4 linked regions of the Homo sapiens genome follow. The protein of the gene in region 2 interacts with the protein of the main gene of each other region in a pairwise test. Each region holds a gene or a part of one and is shown on either strand. Other genes may lie near its edges.

Region 1 (3,780 bases), on a different chromosome or scaffold from region 2:
TACCCTTTTCATTATGGCTTTTAGGCAATCTTTCGCTCTAAAAAAAAAAAGAGAGAGAGAGACAGTTAAGTATTTACTGATAAATTTAATTCAAACATTAAGGTATTATTCTATTACCAAATAATTTTATATTTAATGGCTCATGCCTGTAATTCCAACACTTCGGGAAGCCAAGGCGGGAGGATCACTTGAGCCCATGAATTTGAGACCAGCCTGGAAAACAAAGTAAGATCTCATCTCTATAAAAAACTTAAAAATTAGCTGGGCATGGTGGCATGTGTCTGTACTCCTAGCTACTCAGGAGGCTGAGGCAAGAGGACTGCTTGAGCCCAGGAAGCTGCTGTGAGCTGTGTCATGCCACTATACTCCAGCCTGGATGACAGAGACCGTGTCTCAAAATAAAGAAAGTATAAAATAAAAATAAACTAAACTAAAATCCTGGAAATTTCATATTGTTAAAGGAATAAATCTATAAAATGATTTTACACAATATTTTGTTTATAGGCTCATAGAACTTTAAAAAAAAAAAGCATGTTGCAAATGTTGTGTATTCCAAAATTAAGAGACAAACCATTTCACAAAAGATCTGTCAACACAAGAGACGTATACCAGATCTTTCTATTTCTTCAAGACAGGTTTAGCTTTCAAACAGCAAAAGCTTATCTTGAAAAAAATCTAACATGATATACAATTTTAAGAGGTTCAAGTATAAACATGTGAATGTACTATGAAAAGCTTTAATGTTAAAACAAATGCTTTCATCACTCTTCTAAATTTCTAACATATAGTTCAGCTAATTGCCACATCTCCCCAAAAGCACTTTTTTATATTCACTTTTTTCATTGTTAATCTATTATATTTATATGTATATTATTTGAAGACTTTTTTGTTATATTATCTACTGTGTTATCTACTTCATTATTTAAAAGTTCCCATACATATAGAAGTCCCAGAGGAATTCCTTAAATAACTCACCTATACATTGTTATCATGTATCCTATTGTGTCAAGGCTTTAATTATGTGTGTTACTATAGCAGATTTTCAGTTGAACTCTTTTTCATGTAAATTAATCCCATAAATCCAGCATTCAGGCTTTTTTAACTTTTATGTCCCAAAAGTAAAACAACTGACCCTTTAACTACATGAAAGTTAAGGACACCAACACCCCACGCAGCCGAAAATCTGTGTATAACTTTTGATTCCCCAAAAACTTCACTATTAATAGTCTACTCTTTTTTTTTTTTTTTTTTTGAGACAGAGTCTCGCTCTACCGTCCAGGCTGGAGTGCAGTGGTGCCATCTCGGCTCACTGCAAGCTCTGCCTCCTGGGTTCAAGCGATTTTCCTGTCTCAGCATCTCAAGTAGCTGGGATTACAGGCGCACACCATTATGTCCAGCTAAGTTTTGTATTTCTAGTAGAGATGGGGTTTCACCATGTTGGCCAGGCTGGTTTCGAACTCCTGACCTCAAGTGATCTGCTCGCCTCGGCCTCTCAAAGTTCTGGGATTATAGGCGTGAGCCACTGCGCCCAGCCAACTAACAGCCTACTCTTGACCAGAAGCCTCACCAATACCATAAACAGTAGATGGACATATATTTTGTATATACATAATATACTGTATTCTTACAATAAGGTAAGCTAGAGAAAAAAAAATGTTGTTAAGGAAATCATGAGTTGGAGGAAGAGGGGTTGGTCTTGCTGTCTTAGAGGTAGCAGAGGTGGAAGAAAACCTATGTATAAGTGAACCCTCGCAGTTTAAATCTGTGTTGTTCAAGGGTCAACTGTGATAAAGTCTCATTTTCCTCTCAAAGTTACATCACAAAAAGAGACACTGGTTATCAAGTTCCTAGACATTCACTGAGCATGACTGGACATCTTACCCATTAGGAGTACTTCCAACTTTGTCACATATGTCCATAATAAGACTCCAATCTTCTGTAGTGTTGTACTCATTCGTGGCTTTTTCTATAAAATATATTGGCATACACAACAATGAGGACACATCTCATATAACACTAAAATACCAGTAAAGGTCCAACAGTTAAGAAATCCTACCTTTTCTATTGCCGAAGATACTACAGACGACCTTCAGAAGACAAAAGTACTTCTACTAACTTCAATTTTAAATTGTATAATTAAATGAACTAAATATCTTGAGGTAAAGCAATAAAATGCCTTCTAAATAAACAAATTACTAAGTATCAATAATCCCATCAAATTCTAATTTGGAAGAAAGTTTTAAAGATGTATAATCCAGGCCGGGCATGGTGGCTCATGCCTGTAATCCCAGGCATGGGAGGCCAAGGCAGGAAGATCGTTTGAGGCCAGGAGTTCGAGACCAGCCTGGGCAATATAGATAGACCCTGTTTCTACGAAAAATAAATTTTAAAAATTAGCCAGGCATGGTGGCAAATGCCTGTAATCTTAGCTACTTGGGAGGCTGAAATGGGAGGATTGCTTGAGCCTATGACCTCAAGGCTGCAGTGAGCTATTATCATGCTACCGCACTCCAGCCTGGATGACAGGGTGAGACTCTACCTCTTAAAAAAATTAGAAAGTATATCATACAAGTAAATATGCACTACACTGTCCAATAAAGCATTGGTTTTGTAAATTTTTTTAATAGATAAGGGGTCTCACTATGTTGCCCAGGCTGGTCTTGAACTCCTGGGCTCATGGAATCCTCCTTGGCTCCCAAATGTTGGGATTACAGGCCACTGCACCCAGCCTGAAGCACTGTTTTCAATAGCAAAAAGGAAAATTGATTAATAAATTCATACAACGAAATATGAAATGAGGAATACAAAATTAAATGAACAAAAATTTATGAATCTCAAAATATGATTTGCTTGGGCTTATAACGCTGAGTCAAAAAAGCTAACAGCAGAAGAATTTATAATATTTACATGAGTTCTTTTTTTTTTTTTTTTTTCGACAGTGTCTTGCTCTGTTGCCCAGGCTGGCTGGAGTGCAATGGCACGATCTCAGCTCACTGCAACCTCCACCTCCCAGGTTCAAGCAATTCTCCTGCCTCAGCCGCCTGAGTAGCTGAGACTACAGGCGCCTGCCACCACACTCGGCTAATTCTTGTATTTTTAGTAGAGATGGGGTTTCACCATATTGGTCAGGCTGGTCTCAAACTCCTGACCTTGTGATCCGCCCACCTCAGCCTCCCAAAGTGCTAGGACTGATTACAGACATAAGCCACCGCACCCAGCTACATGAGTTTTTTAAGACAGCTTTATCGCTATAATTCATGTATCAATACAATTTACACATTTAAAATGTACAATTCAATGTTTTGACTATATTCATAGAGTTGTACAACTAACACCAGTATCTAATTTGAGAACATTTAATCACTTCCAAAAGAAATCCATACCCATTGGCAGTCACTGTTCATTCTCCCCACATATTCCCAGCCCTACGCAACCACTTGTCTACTTTCTGTCTCCAAAGATTTACCTATTCCGGATTTTTCATATAAATAGAACCACACAATATATGTTCTTTTCTGACTGGCTTCTGTTATTTGGCATAATGTTTGCAAGGGTCATCCACGTTGTAGCATGTACCAGTACTTCATTTCTTCTTATGGCTAAATAATATTCCATTGTATAGATATACCACATTTATTCATTCACCAGTTCATGAACATCTGGGTTGGTTGGTTGGTTGGTTGGTTGGCTTACTGAGACAGGGTCTCACTCTGTTGCCCAGGCTGGTGTGCAGTGGTGTGATCACAACTCACTGCAGCCTTTATCTCCCGGGGCTCACGT
Region 2 (4,060 bases):
ATAAACCTCTCACGAAGTTATTCAATAGTAGATGAAAGTTTTCTCAGTTGAGAATAAACATACTTGTTATATTATTATGTAAGAATGCCATTTCTAAGATATCAATCTTGCTTTCCACTCATGGTCACTTTTTTTCCCTTGTATTATTTCATCCTATTATCTTCAAATAAAATTTTCTTACAATAAGTACAAGATAGTTACAAATCGTGGACTGACTTTACTGTAGAAACATATTTTGGCAAGCCTCTATTAAGATGAGGCTTTCTTCACAACCACCACTAAGTTTTTCTTGTAGATTAGACTATAGCACTAGTGCATAAGCAAGGGCAGTAATTTTTGCAGTGGTTCTTAAACACCCATAGTTTCTTAGTCAGAATCACTTGCTTTTTCAAACTAACAAGGCTGGAGCCTTCCTAAGTATCTTGTTTTTCTGAATCATATTTTCCAAGAATAGGCTGAGTGGGCAGGCATATGTATTTCTTAAAGATTCTCAGATAATTCTGACATGCAACTCTGGTTAAGACCCACTGATCCTGGGGTTGAGCACAAGACAGCCCAGCTACTCTTGAGGTAGGCTGGCTGAAACTTTGTCTCCTGAGGTGTTCTGTATTGTATGGTAGTAAGCTGAGTCAATCCCACTTATTCCTTGGAAAGTATTAACTATAACTGAGCGTGGAAAATAAACATTAAATGGGCACTTGAGTTCAGATTGTTGGCCAGAGCAAGGCTGAGATAATTCTTATGTGCCCTATGAAGTACACTGCACATCCCAGTCTTGAAGAACTTGCGTGGCTAAGGAGATGACATCCAAGTCCAATATATGCTTACAATAATATCCCATCAGTTAAGGCCTTCTATGCATTCTGCTTCTCTGCTACCGTAAACCTACACAACCTGACAACACACATTTCCATTCTCTTCCCTAGTCCTTATTACACTGTATTAATAATTAACTGTTTACTTGTTAGTATAGCCTAAGATCATTTAAGGCAAGGACACTCTAAGTACCAAGACATAGTGCATCTGATGTTTAAAAGACAATAAAAAAGTAAAACATATTACAAAGTAAAACATGCCTTTAATAAAAGGTAAATTTATGTAATAAAAGTCAAACCATAACTAAAAGGAGTTAAGATTTTACTCCTTATTCTTATAAAATTATAAAGGTAAACTTTAAATACTGCAACAGTGTATTACTTTGTGCTTAATAAGATTAAATGATTATATGTATAGAGAGGTGATAAATTTATTTTCAAGCAACTGAAGAATTTTCTACTTAATATTAGAGAACTTTATCAAGACTGAATGTTTATTTGTAAAGAAAATTTCACAATAATTTATTAAGTGATTTGTAGGAGATAATCAAAGGCATTTTGTTTGGTTCTATAATACAAAACTGCTTACCAAAAGTTTTAGCAGCTTGGATAGTTTCTCTGGATCCCCTAATTGTCATAATTTGGGCCAAAGCAGTTAAATCATCACTTGCTTTATAAAATGGATATCGTCCACTAAGCAAAGAAAGAAATATGACACCTGCAGACCACATGTCAATTGCTGCAACAGAAGACAAATTTTAAAAATAAATTTCAAATCTATAATTTTATCATCTAAATCAATAGTCCTCAACATTTATTATGCATTAGAATCACCTTGGGAGCCTTAAAAATTTCAGATGCCCAGACCCAAAGATTTTGATTGAACAGTTCTGAAGTAGGGCTCAGGCATCAATGTTTTAAAAAAGTTCCTCAGGTGATTTTAATGTACAACCAGGACTGAGAATCCTCACTGCAAAATATGTTTTCTTTCTTGAGCAACGTGTTGGTAAATTTAAAAGGATATTTAATCACTAGGAAACACTAAGTAAACGCACATTTTATAGGATCAAAAGGAATCCAAAAATAGCTATGTGGGAAAAAATCTGAATGATCCTTGAGAATTACATACCATACTGGTCAAAGTGCTTTCATTTTAGTGAAAAGTAATGAACATTAGAAGCTCTTCTTCAGCTGACACTAGCACCAACTACTGCTATAGAAACTTTTAAAAAATTACTTTTTTATTTTTTTGTGACTGTGAAGACTTTAATTTTTCTGAGTACACAGTAGGTGTATATATTGATGGGGTATATAAGATGTTTTGATACAGGCATGCAGTGTGTAATAATCACATCCTGGAAAACAGGGTATCCATTCCCTCAAGCATTTATCCTTTGTGTTACGAACAATCCAATTATATTCTTTTCTTTTTTTCTTTTTGAGACAAGGTCTCCCTCTGTGGCCCAGACTAGAGTGCAGTGGCACAGTCTCAGCTCACTGCAATCTCTGCCTCCCAGGTTCAAGCAATTCTCATGCTTCAGCCTCTTGAGTAGCTGGGATTACAGGCATGTCACCATGCCCAGCTCTTTTTTTTTTTTTTTTTTTTTTTTTTGTATTTTTAGTAGAGACGAGGTTTTGCCACATTGGCCAGGCTGGTCTCAAGCTCCTGGGCTCAAGTGATCTGCCTGCCTCAGCCCCTCAAAGTACTCTTTTAGTTATTTTAAACTGCACAATTAAATTACTGACTATAATCCCCCTGCTGTGCTATCAAATACTAGGTCTTAATTCATTCTTTTTTTTTTTTTTTCGAGATGGGGTCTGGCTCTGTTACCCAGGCTAGAGTGTGGTAGTGTGATCTCGGCTCACTGCAACCTCCGCCTCCCAGGCTCAAGTGATCCTCCCACCTCAGCCTCCTGAGTAGCTGGGACCACAGATGCACACTACCACATCCAGCTACTTTTTTGTATTTTTGGTAGAAATAGGGTTCTACCATGTTGCCCAAGCTGGTCTCGAGTGCCTGAGCTCAAGCAATCCACCTGCCTTGGCCTCCCAAAGTGCTGGATAATTCATTCTTTATAACTATTTTTTGTACCCATCAGCTGTCCCCACATCCCCCACACCCTCCCACCACCCTTCTCAGCCTCTGGTAACCATCTTTCTGCTCTCTATGGGTTCAATTGTTTTAATTTTTAGATCCCACAAATTAGTGAGAACATGCAACTCTTGTCTTTCGGTGCCTGGCTTATTTCACCTGACATAATGATCTCCAGTTCCATCCATGTTGTTGCAAATGACAAGATCTTCTTTTTCGTGGCTGAATAGTACTTCCATTGTGTGTAAGTACCACATTTTCTTTATCCATTCATCTGTTGACGGACACTTAGGTCGCTTTCAAATTTTGGCTATTATGAATAGTGCTTCAACAAACATGGGAGTGCAGATACCTCTTCGGTACATTGATTTCCTTTCTTTTGGGTATATACCCAGCAGTGGGATTGTTGGATCATGTAGTAGCTCTATTTTTAGTTTTTTGAGGAACGTCCAAATTGTTTTCCATAGTGGTTGTACTAATTTACATTCCCACTATAGAAACTTTAATCTTCTGAATTCTGGTAGTTAAAGATTACGACTAGCTCAACTTGATGTTAAAAAGCTCTTTTTTTTTTTTCTTAAAGTTGACATCTCTCTTAATTGTTGACTTCCTAGTATCACCAGGTTATCTGCTCTCTGTTCCTTGGGCTACTGTATCACCTTTTTTTTTTTTTTTTTTTTTTTGAGACTGAGTCTCACTCTGTTGCTCAGGCTGGAGTGCAATGGTGCGATCTTGGCTCACTGTAACCTCTGCCTCCCGGGTTCAATTCTCCTGCCTCAGCCTCCCCAGTAGCTGGAACTACAGGTGTGTGCCACCATGCCCTGCTAATTTTTTGTACTTTTTAGTAGAGACGGGATTTCGCCATATTGGCCAGGCTGATCTCGAACTCCTGACCTAGTGATCTGCCTGCCTTGGCCTCCCAAAGTGCTGGTATTATAGGCATGAGCCACTGTGCCCGGCCCTACTTGCCTTTCTTAGCTCCTTTGGTACCTCTGCCTGCTCCTTCAATGTTTTCTCCAAGCCTTAAGTGCTGACGGATATTCCTCAGAGTTTTAACTTCTCCCTCTGTATACTCTCCCTGATTGGTCCATCCACTTCATGGCTTCAACTGTCATTTATATAATGATGACATTCATCTGTATTTCTAGCCCAG
Region 3 (3,780 bases), on a different chromosome or scaffold from region 2:
CGGGTTAAGTCTCAAATGTCCCTTATTAGCTATGTCACAACTTCTCTGAGCCTTAGTTCTCACGTCTGTAAAATAGGGATGATGGTAGTCTTTGTCACAGTGTATTGATGTGAGGATGCAGTGAGAAAGCATAGTCGGGCGCGGTGGCTCACGCCTGTAATTCCCAGCACTTTCGGAGGCTGAGGTGGGTGGATCACGAGGTCAGGAGATCGAGACTATCCTGGCTAACACGGTGAAACCCCGTCTCTACTAAAAATACAAAAAAAAATTAGGCCGGGCATGGTGGCTCACGCCTGTAATCCCAGCACTTTGCAAGGCCAAGGCGGATGGATCACGAGGTCAGGAGATCGAGACCATCCTGGTTAACACAGTGAAACCCCGTCTCTACTAAAAATACAAAAAATTAGCCGGGCGTGGTGTCGGACACCTGTAGTCCCAGCTACTCTGGAGGCTGAGGCAGGAGAATGGCATGAACCCAGGAGGCGGAGTTTGCAGTGAGCCAAGATTGCGCCACTGCACTCCAGCCTGGCGACAGAGCGAGACTCAGTCTCAAAAAAAAAAAAAAAAAAAAAATTTAGCCAGGTGTGGTGGCATGTGCTTATAGTCCCAGCTACTCAGGAGGCTGAGGCAGGAGAATCCCTTGAACCCGGGAAGCGGAGGTTGCGGTGAGCTGAGATTGCACCATTGCACTCCAGCCTGGACAACAAGAACAAAACTCTGTCTCAAAAAAAAAAAAAAAAAAAGAGGGAAAGCATAATGTGTGCTTCACATGGACCCTGGTACTTGCTAGGAACTCAGTAAAGATTAGCTATTCTGGCCGGGCACAGTGGCTCATGCCCGTAATCCCAGCAGTTTGGGAGGCCAAGATGTGCGACTTTTAGCACTTTGAGGCCAAGGTGGGCAGATCACTTGAGGTCAGGAATTTGAGACCAGCCTGGCCAACATGGTGAAACTCCATCTCTACTAAAAATACAAAAATTAGCCGGGCATGGTGGCACACGCCTGTATTCCCAGTTACTCGGGAGGCTGAGGCAGGAGAATCGCTTGAACTCGGGAGGCAGAGGTTGCAGTGAGCTGGGATCGACCCCTTGCACTCCAGCCACGGGGACAAGAGTGAAACTCCATCTCAAAAAAAAAAAAAAAAGACTATCAAAATGGATGTAATTATTTATGTATGTATGTTTATATGTATGTATTTATTTATTTATTTGAGATGGAGTTGCCAAGCTGGAGTTGCCCAAGCTGGAGTGCAGTACAGTAGCACGATCTCTGCTCACTGCAGCTCTGCCTCTTGAGTTCAAGCAATTCTCCTGCCTCAGACTCCCGAGTAGCTGGCCTGCCACCATGCCCAGTTCTTTTGTATTTTTAGTAGAGATTACAAGTGTGAGCCATCGCGCCCAGCTCACGCCTGATTCCCAGCACTTTGGGAGGCGGAGGCAAGCGGATAACCTGAGGCCAGGAATTTGAGGCCAGCCTGGCCAACATGTTGAAACCCCATCTCTACTAAAAATACAAAAATTAACCAGGCCTGGTAGTGCACGCCTGTAATCCCAGCTATTTCGGAGGCCGAGGCAGAAGAATTGCCTCAACCCTGGAGGCAGAGGCCACAGTGAGCAGACATGGCACGACTGTACTCCAGTCTGGGCGACAGAGAGAGACTCTGTCTCAAAAAAAAAAAAAAAAAAGGATGGGGTCTCACTATGTTGCCCACGCTGGGCTTCTCGAACTGTCCTGGGATCAAGAGATCCTCCTACCTTGTCCTCCCAAAGTGCTGGGATTACAGGCTTGAGTCATGATGCCCAGCCTAATTTTTATAAAAGCACAAAATAACCCTGGAAGACACCTGGGAGTTTATTTTTTATTTTTTTCTTAGAGACAGGGTCTTACTCTGTCACCCAGGCTGGAGTGCAGTGACCCAATAACACCTCACAGTAACTACAAACTCCCGGGCTCAAGAGATCCTCCCACCTCAGTCTCCTGAGTAGCTAGGACTACATGGGCACACCACCATTCCTGGTTAATTTAAAAAATCTTTTTTGTAGAGATGAAATCTCCCTGTGTTGCCAGGCTGGTCTCAAACTCCTGGTCTCAAGCAGTCTTCCTTCTTTGGCCTCCCAAAGTGTTAGGATTACAGGTGTGAGCCAGCCTTGTTTTTCAGAATTTTATTTATTTATTTTTTTGAGACTGAGTCTCGCTCTGTCGCCCAGGCTGGGGTGCAGTGGCACAATCTCTGCTCACTGCAGCCTCCACCTCCTGGGTTCAAGTGATTGTCCTGCCTCAGCCTCCCGAGTAGCCGGAATTACAGGCGCATGCCACCACGCCCAGCTAATTTTTGTATTTTTAGTAGAGATGGGGTTTCACCATGTTGGCCAGGCTGGTCTTGAACTCCTGACCTAGTGATCTGCCCACCTCAGCCTCCCAAAATGCTGGGATTACAGGTGTGAGCCACTGCGCCCGGCCCAGACTATTTTTTATTATTTGTTTTTATTTATTCATTTATTTTGAGACGGAGCCTCACTCTGTTGCCCAGGCTGGAGCGCAGTGGCACTATCTTGGCTCACTGCAACCTCCACCTCCCAAGTTCAAGCAATTCTCCTGCCTCAGCCTCCCGAAGAGACTGCAGGCACGCACCACCACACCCGGCAAATTTTGTATTTTTAGTAGAAACGGAGTTTCACCATGTTGCCCAGGGTGGTCTTGAACCCCTGACCTCAGGTGATCCACCCACTTCGGCCTCCCAAAGTGCTGGGATTACAGGCGTGAGCCACCGCGCCCGGCCGTTTTTCAGACTTGTAAAAGACCAGTCCTTGGCCGGGCGCGGTGGCTTACGCTTGTAATCCCAGCACTTTGGGAGGCCAAGGCGGGCAAATCACGAGGTCAGGAGACGGAGACCATCCTGGCTAACACGGTGAAACCCTCGTCTCTACTAAAAACGCAAAAAATGGCCGGGCGCGGTGGCTCACGCCTGTAATCCCAGCACTTTGGGAGGCCGAGGCGGGTGGATCACGAGGTTAGGAGATCGAGACCACGGTGAAACCCCGTCTCTACTAAAAATACAAAAAAAAAAAAAAAATAGCCGGGCGCGGTGGCGGGCGCCTGTAGTCCCAGCTACTCAGGAGACTGTGGCAGGAGAATGGCGTGAACCCGGGAGGCGGAACTTGCAGTGAGCCGAGATCGCGCCACTGCACTCCAGCCTGGGCGACAAAGCAAGACTCTGTTTCAAAAAAACAAAAAACAAAAAAAAAACCGCAAAAAATTAGCCAGGTGTGGTGACACGTGCCTGTAGTCCCAGCTACTAGGGAGGCTGAGGCAGGAGAATCGCTTGAACCTGGGAGGTGGAGGTTGCAGTGAGCCAAGACTGTGCCACTGCGCTCCAGCCTGGGCGAGGAGCGAGGCTCCGTCTCAAAAAATAAATTAATTAATATTAAAAAAAAAAAAAAAGACCAGTCCTCGTGTTCTGTCTACTGTTTCTACCGGGAGAAAATGTGGCTACCCTCCTTTGCTTGCAGAGGCGAGTGGAAGCTGGAGAACCAGCTGCCAGGGCCGGGTCTCGGCTAGGTTATTAACAGCTGAGGGATCTCCGCCCGGGTGGCTGGAACGCAGTGCTCCCGGGCGCTCCGTGCTCTCTGCTTCCCCCTGTAGGTAAAAACGGGAAGGCGGCCCCGGAGGGACGGCGGGAGGGAACACTGCCCCCTGGTGGTTGATGCCGCGCAAAAGAAAGAATGAAAAAGCCTGGCCCACAGAAGGTGGCAGCTGAGAAGGGTGCCCGGGAGCCTCAGA
Region 4 (3,780 bases), on a different chromosome or scaffold from region 2:
GCCATCTCGGACTAAGAGTAAGGGGGAGCTTGAGGAGTCCTCACACCAGTCCCCATACCATCTTCCTCCAGACAGTGCTACAGAAAAGAGAAATGAACTTCCTATTTCTTTAAGCTACTTTATCTGGATTTACCATTACTTATAGCCAAATCCATTTCCAACCAGTCAGTGCTGGAGACAGGATTCAAACCAGGTAAATCCCAACTCTTACCCACTGTATTGTCTACAAAGTCACAAGAATGAACAGAGTTAGGAGCTAAAAGCACTGAGGGCCAGAGAAGGAATGTAATTTCCCTACAGTCACACAGTGGGCTAGAGGCTGGGACCCAAGACTCTTGACTCCCAGGCCTGGGTCCTTCCCTCCCTTCGGGCTTCCTACAATGGGAGAAGCCAGGCCAAATTCAGACAAGAGGGGTCTAGGTTTGCCCGGCCTTAAATCAAGAAACATGGATCATCATTGAGATCAAGGAGGCCATAGTTTATGCTCCAAAGGGACTCTTCCTGCCCAGAGCTACTATGGGCCTGTGCCAAGTGAAAAGCCTGGACCACTGCCCCTGGTTGCCAAGCACACCCTGCTGTGTAAAGCAAGCCCCATCTGCCATGGCCCAGCCCTGCCCGCCTGCTCACCGCACAGTGATGGGGATGCTGGAGCGGCGGTCACTGTCCCTCTCGTGCTGACGGGCCCCGCTCCGCATGATGATGTAGCGGTTCTTCAGTTTCTCTGCAGCCTCTGCTGACAGCCGGGGGCCACACTTCCTGCAGGACAGTGGGGAGAGGCTGGTGTGAGGCCAGGAGGGACTCTTAGGGCACCTACCCTTTCCCCCAGCCCCCTGCCAGCTTACAGACATGCACTTTCCCACCACACCACAGCTGCCCACTCATATGGGCTGGGGGACAACAATCGGAAAAGATTTAAGTGAAATCTGGCTGTGGGCAGCTGCCACAAACATCAACACTGGGGAGAAATATGGGTGCCTCTCTTAAAAAACAGGTGAAGAAAAGCCAGGCACGTCTGCAGGGTGAAAACCGCCTCTTCCCCACTGTTAGACGCTGTGTGGTGTCTTGCCACAAGGTCCCCCATACATGTAATGAACAATGGCACAATCACAGCGGCATGGAGGCCCACTGGGTGGTGGGCTTTGCAGCAGTCTCAAACTCCTCCACCCAACACATCTGAAGACACGACAAGCTGATGACACCCACAGGAGGCTTGGCGGTGACTGCAGTCCAGGGGCTGGGAGCACCTCAGACTCTCCTGGGACGGTAGGTGTGGGGAAGTCTGATCAGCATCTACCCTATCCCATCCCCTCCCCTCTAGCCCCCAGGCCAACTGACAGTCACTGATGTAGGGAAAGCCTTAGCTCAACCATCCTAAGGATGTGGAGACTGAGACCCAGAGGGAGGGAGGGAACTCCCCAAGGCTACCTGGGGACTTAGTGCAGAGGGAAGATTAGAATCCAGGGCTCCCTGACTCACAGCTGTGGGCCCAAGCCTCTCAAGACTGGGCCACACAGAGCTCAGACTTGGATGAAGACCCAGGGACTACCCACTCACCCTGGCAGAGGTGCTGAATCAGGGACCCACCAGCCCCCCACTGGTAGTGCATTCAAAGAGCCCTCAACCCCTGGGTTTTAGCTCCTTCAAAAGATCACCAAAGCGCTGTACGACAAGAATCGAAGCACTGTGGTTAAGAGCACAGCCTCTGGAGGCAAGCAGCTGGGTTCACATCCTGGCTCCACTACCTCTGGCATGTGACCTTGGGCAAGTTACTTAACTTCCTTTGCCTCAGCTTCCCCATCCATAAAGGGAAGGGAATAATAGCACACCTTACCTGGTAGGTTTTGGGGGAGGGTTATAATTTATTCATATAGAAAATACTGAATAGTAATTCAGAATGCCTGGCACAAAGAAAGTAGTGTGTAAGAGTGAGTGTGTGTGTGTGTGTGTGTGTGTACACATATATATATATTTTTTTTTTTTGAGACAGAGTCTCACTCTGTTGCCCAGGCTGAAGTGCAATGGCACGATCTCAGCTCACTGCAATCTCTGCCTCCTGGGTTCAAGCAATTCTCCTGCCTCAGCCTCCTGAGTAGCTGGGACTATAGGTGTGCACCACCACACCCGGCTAATTTTTGTATTTTTAGTAGACATGGGGTTTCGCCACGTTGGCCAGGCTGGTCTCGCACTCCTGACCTCAAGTGATCCACCTGCCTCCGCCTCCCAAAGTGCTGGGATTACAGCGTGAGCCACTGCAACCAGCCAGTACTATGTATATAATTATTATTATTGAAAATCTGTGAGAACAATCAAATTGCAGCTGCGACTCACTGAGTATTTACCCAGGGCAGGGCTATGCCAAGCACTTACTCATCATCTTGTGCAATCCTTACAAAAATCCTAGCAAACATCGATAGGCCTGGGGAAATCAAGGCTCAGAGAGGCCAACCAACTTGCCCAAAGTCATAGAGTGAAGGCAGGTATGACCCAGAGCCCATGTCTACCATGTCTACACTTCACTGCCTCCCTGCATGTCAGACTCGAGGAGGTCTTCAAGACCATCTAAATCCCACCTCCTTGGTGTGGAGGTGGGAAAACTGAAGCCAAGAGCCAGTGAGCTACGCAAGGTTAGAAGGGAGCAGAGCAGATTCAGTAGAGCTGAGAACCTCAGAACAGCAACATCTGGGCTGTTCTTCATGAGGAGGAGCAGGACCAGGGGACTGGGTTCTCTCCCACCCAGGGAAGCTGGGCAACCTCACCCCCGTGGGCCTGCGTCCAGGACTCACACTCGGCAGTAGGCAATAAACTTCTTCAGCTTGGCCAGGTCAATCTCGCCCTCCACAGCCTGTGTCTGTGTCAGTGCGCTCACGTGCAGAGTGATGACATGCTTGGCCAGCATCTGGAGAGCAGAGGGGATAATGGGTCATCCCACAGGCCGTCCCAAGCCTGAGTCCCAGCACTGAGGTGGAACAGCCAGAAAGAGCTGATGGGGCCCTGGCATCAAGGAGCCGGAAAGGGTGCTGAGATCTCAGGCGTGCTCAGCCTGTTTGCTCAGCACCAGGCCCTCGTTCTGATGGGAGCATCTGGATTCTCCTTTAGAGAGAACTTAATGCTCCTTGCTCCTCTGCCCTGGTCCATAAAGGGGTGGGTTCAGCTTGTCCACCCCGACTTGGGGCATGTATCTTGTCCACCCCAACTTGGGCATGGACATAGGATCTACCCAAGCCAATAGGAGTCTATCCTGGGACTTTTGATAGAAGTACTGGAAAAGACGGGGCCTCCTCTTTCCTGGGGGCTGTTAAGCTACAAGCTAACAGGACAAAATCTTATTTTGTCTTTGCCACCACAAGAGGAACAGCTGCCCAAGTACAAAGATTCCACCAAGGGAAGCAGAACAGAAAGGCAGAGACAGTTGTTTGAGAATCCAGATCTACCTGGGCCTTAAGCCGCCGGACTTACCAATTCTATAAACCACTATGTTTTTTTCTTTGAAAAATTTACTAACCAGAACTGAGGTTCTATTACTCATAACCCAATGTCAACTCCTCTGTTTCATATATAAGGGACTGAGGCCCAGGGAGAAACTGATTTAGCCCAAATCACACAGCTTATCACTCACGGCAGAGGCAGAGCAGGCCACAGGACTCCAGACCCTGCTTCAATCCTCTGCAGTCCACAACAACCGCCCTCTCACGTGCTCCCCAATTTCACAGCCTGACAGTCAGGACTTTGCCAGCCAAGGCCCTTGTTCTCCATTCTCCTTCCCACACAATCACAAGCCTG

What was found. Proteins that work in one complex are often made in the same cells at the same time.
Region 1: the proteins of CDC7 (region 2) and STAM2 interact in binary tests that used the Homo sapiens proteins (3 or more experiments, as listed by UniProt).
Region 3: the proteins of CDC7 (region 2) and TSNAXIP1 interact in binary tests that used the Homo sapiens proteins (3 or more experiments, as listed by UniProt).
Region 4: the proteins of CDC7 (region 2) and MCM5 interact in a two-hybrid assay, tested with the Homo sapiens proteins (one large-scale study listed by BioGRID).

Annotation. Positions count from the first base shown.
Region 1 is NC_000002.12:152,148,264-152,152,043, forward strand, and holds part of STAM2 (signal transducing adapter molecule 2), read right to left. Parts: intron 1,967-3,780; coding exon 1,882-1,966; intron 38-1,881; coding exon 1-37.
Region 2 is NC_000001.11:91,517,624-91,521,683, reverse strand, and holds part of CDC7 (cell division cycle 7-related protein kinase), read right to left. Parts: intron 3,152-4,060; exon of another isoform or gene 3,009-3,151; intron 1,555-3,008; coding exon 1,405-1,554; intron 1-1,404. UniProt on the Homo sapiens protein: Kinase involved in initiation of DNA replication. Phosphorylates critical substrates that regulate the G1/S phase transition and initiation of DNA replication, such as MCM proteins and CLASPIN.
Region 3 is NC_000016.10:67,816,609-67,820,388, reverse strand, and holds part of TSNAXIP1 (translin-associated factor X-interacting protein 1), read right to left. Parts: intron 1-3,780. UniProt on the Homo sapiens protein: Possible role in spermatogenesis.
Region 4 is NC_000022.11:35,416,860-35,420,639, reverse strand, and holds part of MCM5 (DNA replication licensing factor MCM5), read right to left. Parts: intron 2,897-3,780; coding exon 2,784-2,896; intron 757-2,783; coding exon 628-756; intron 1-627. UniProt on the Homo sapiens protein: Acts as a component of the MCM2-7 complex (MCM complex) which is the replicative helicase essential for 'once per cell cycle' DNA replication initiation and elongation in eukaryotic cells.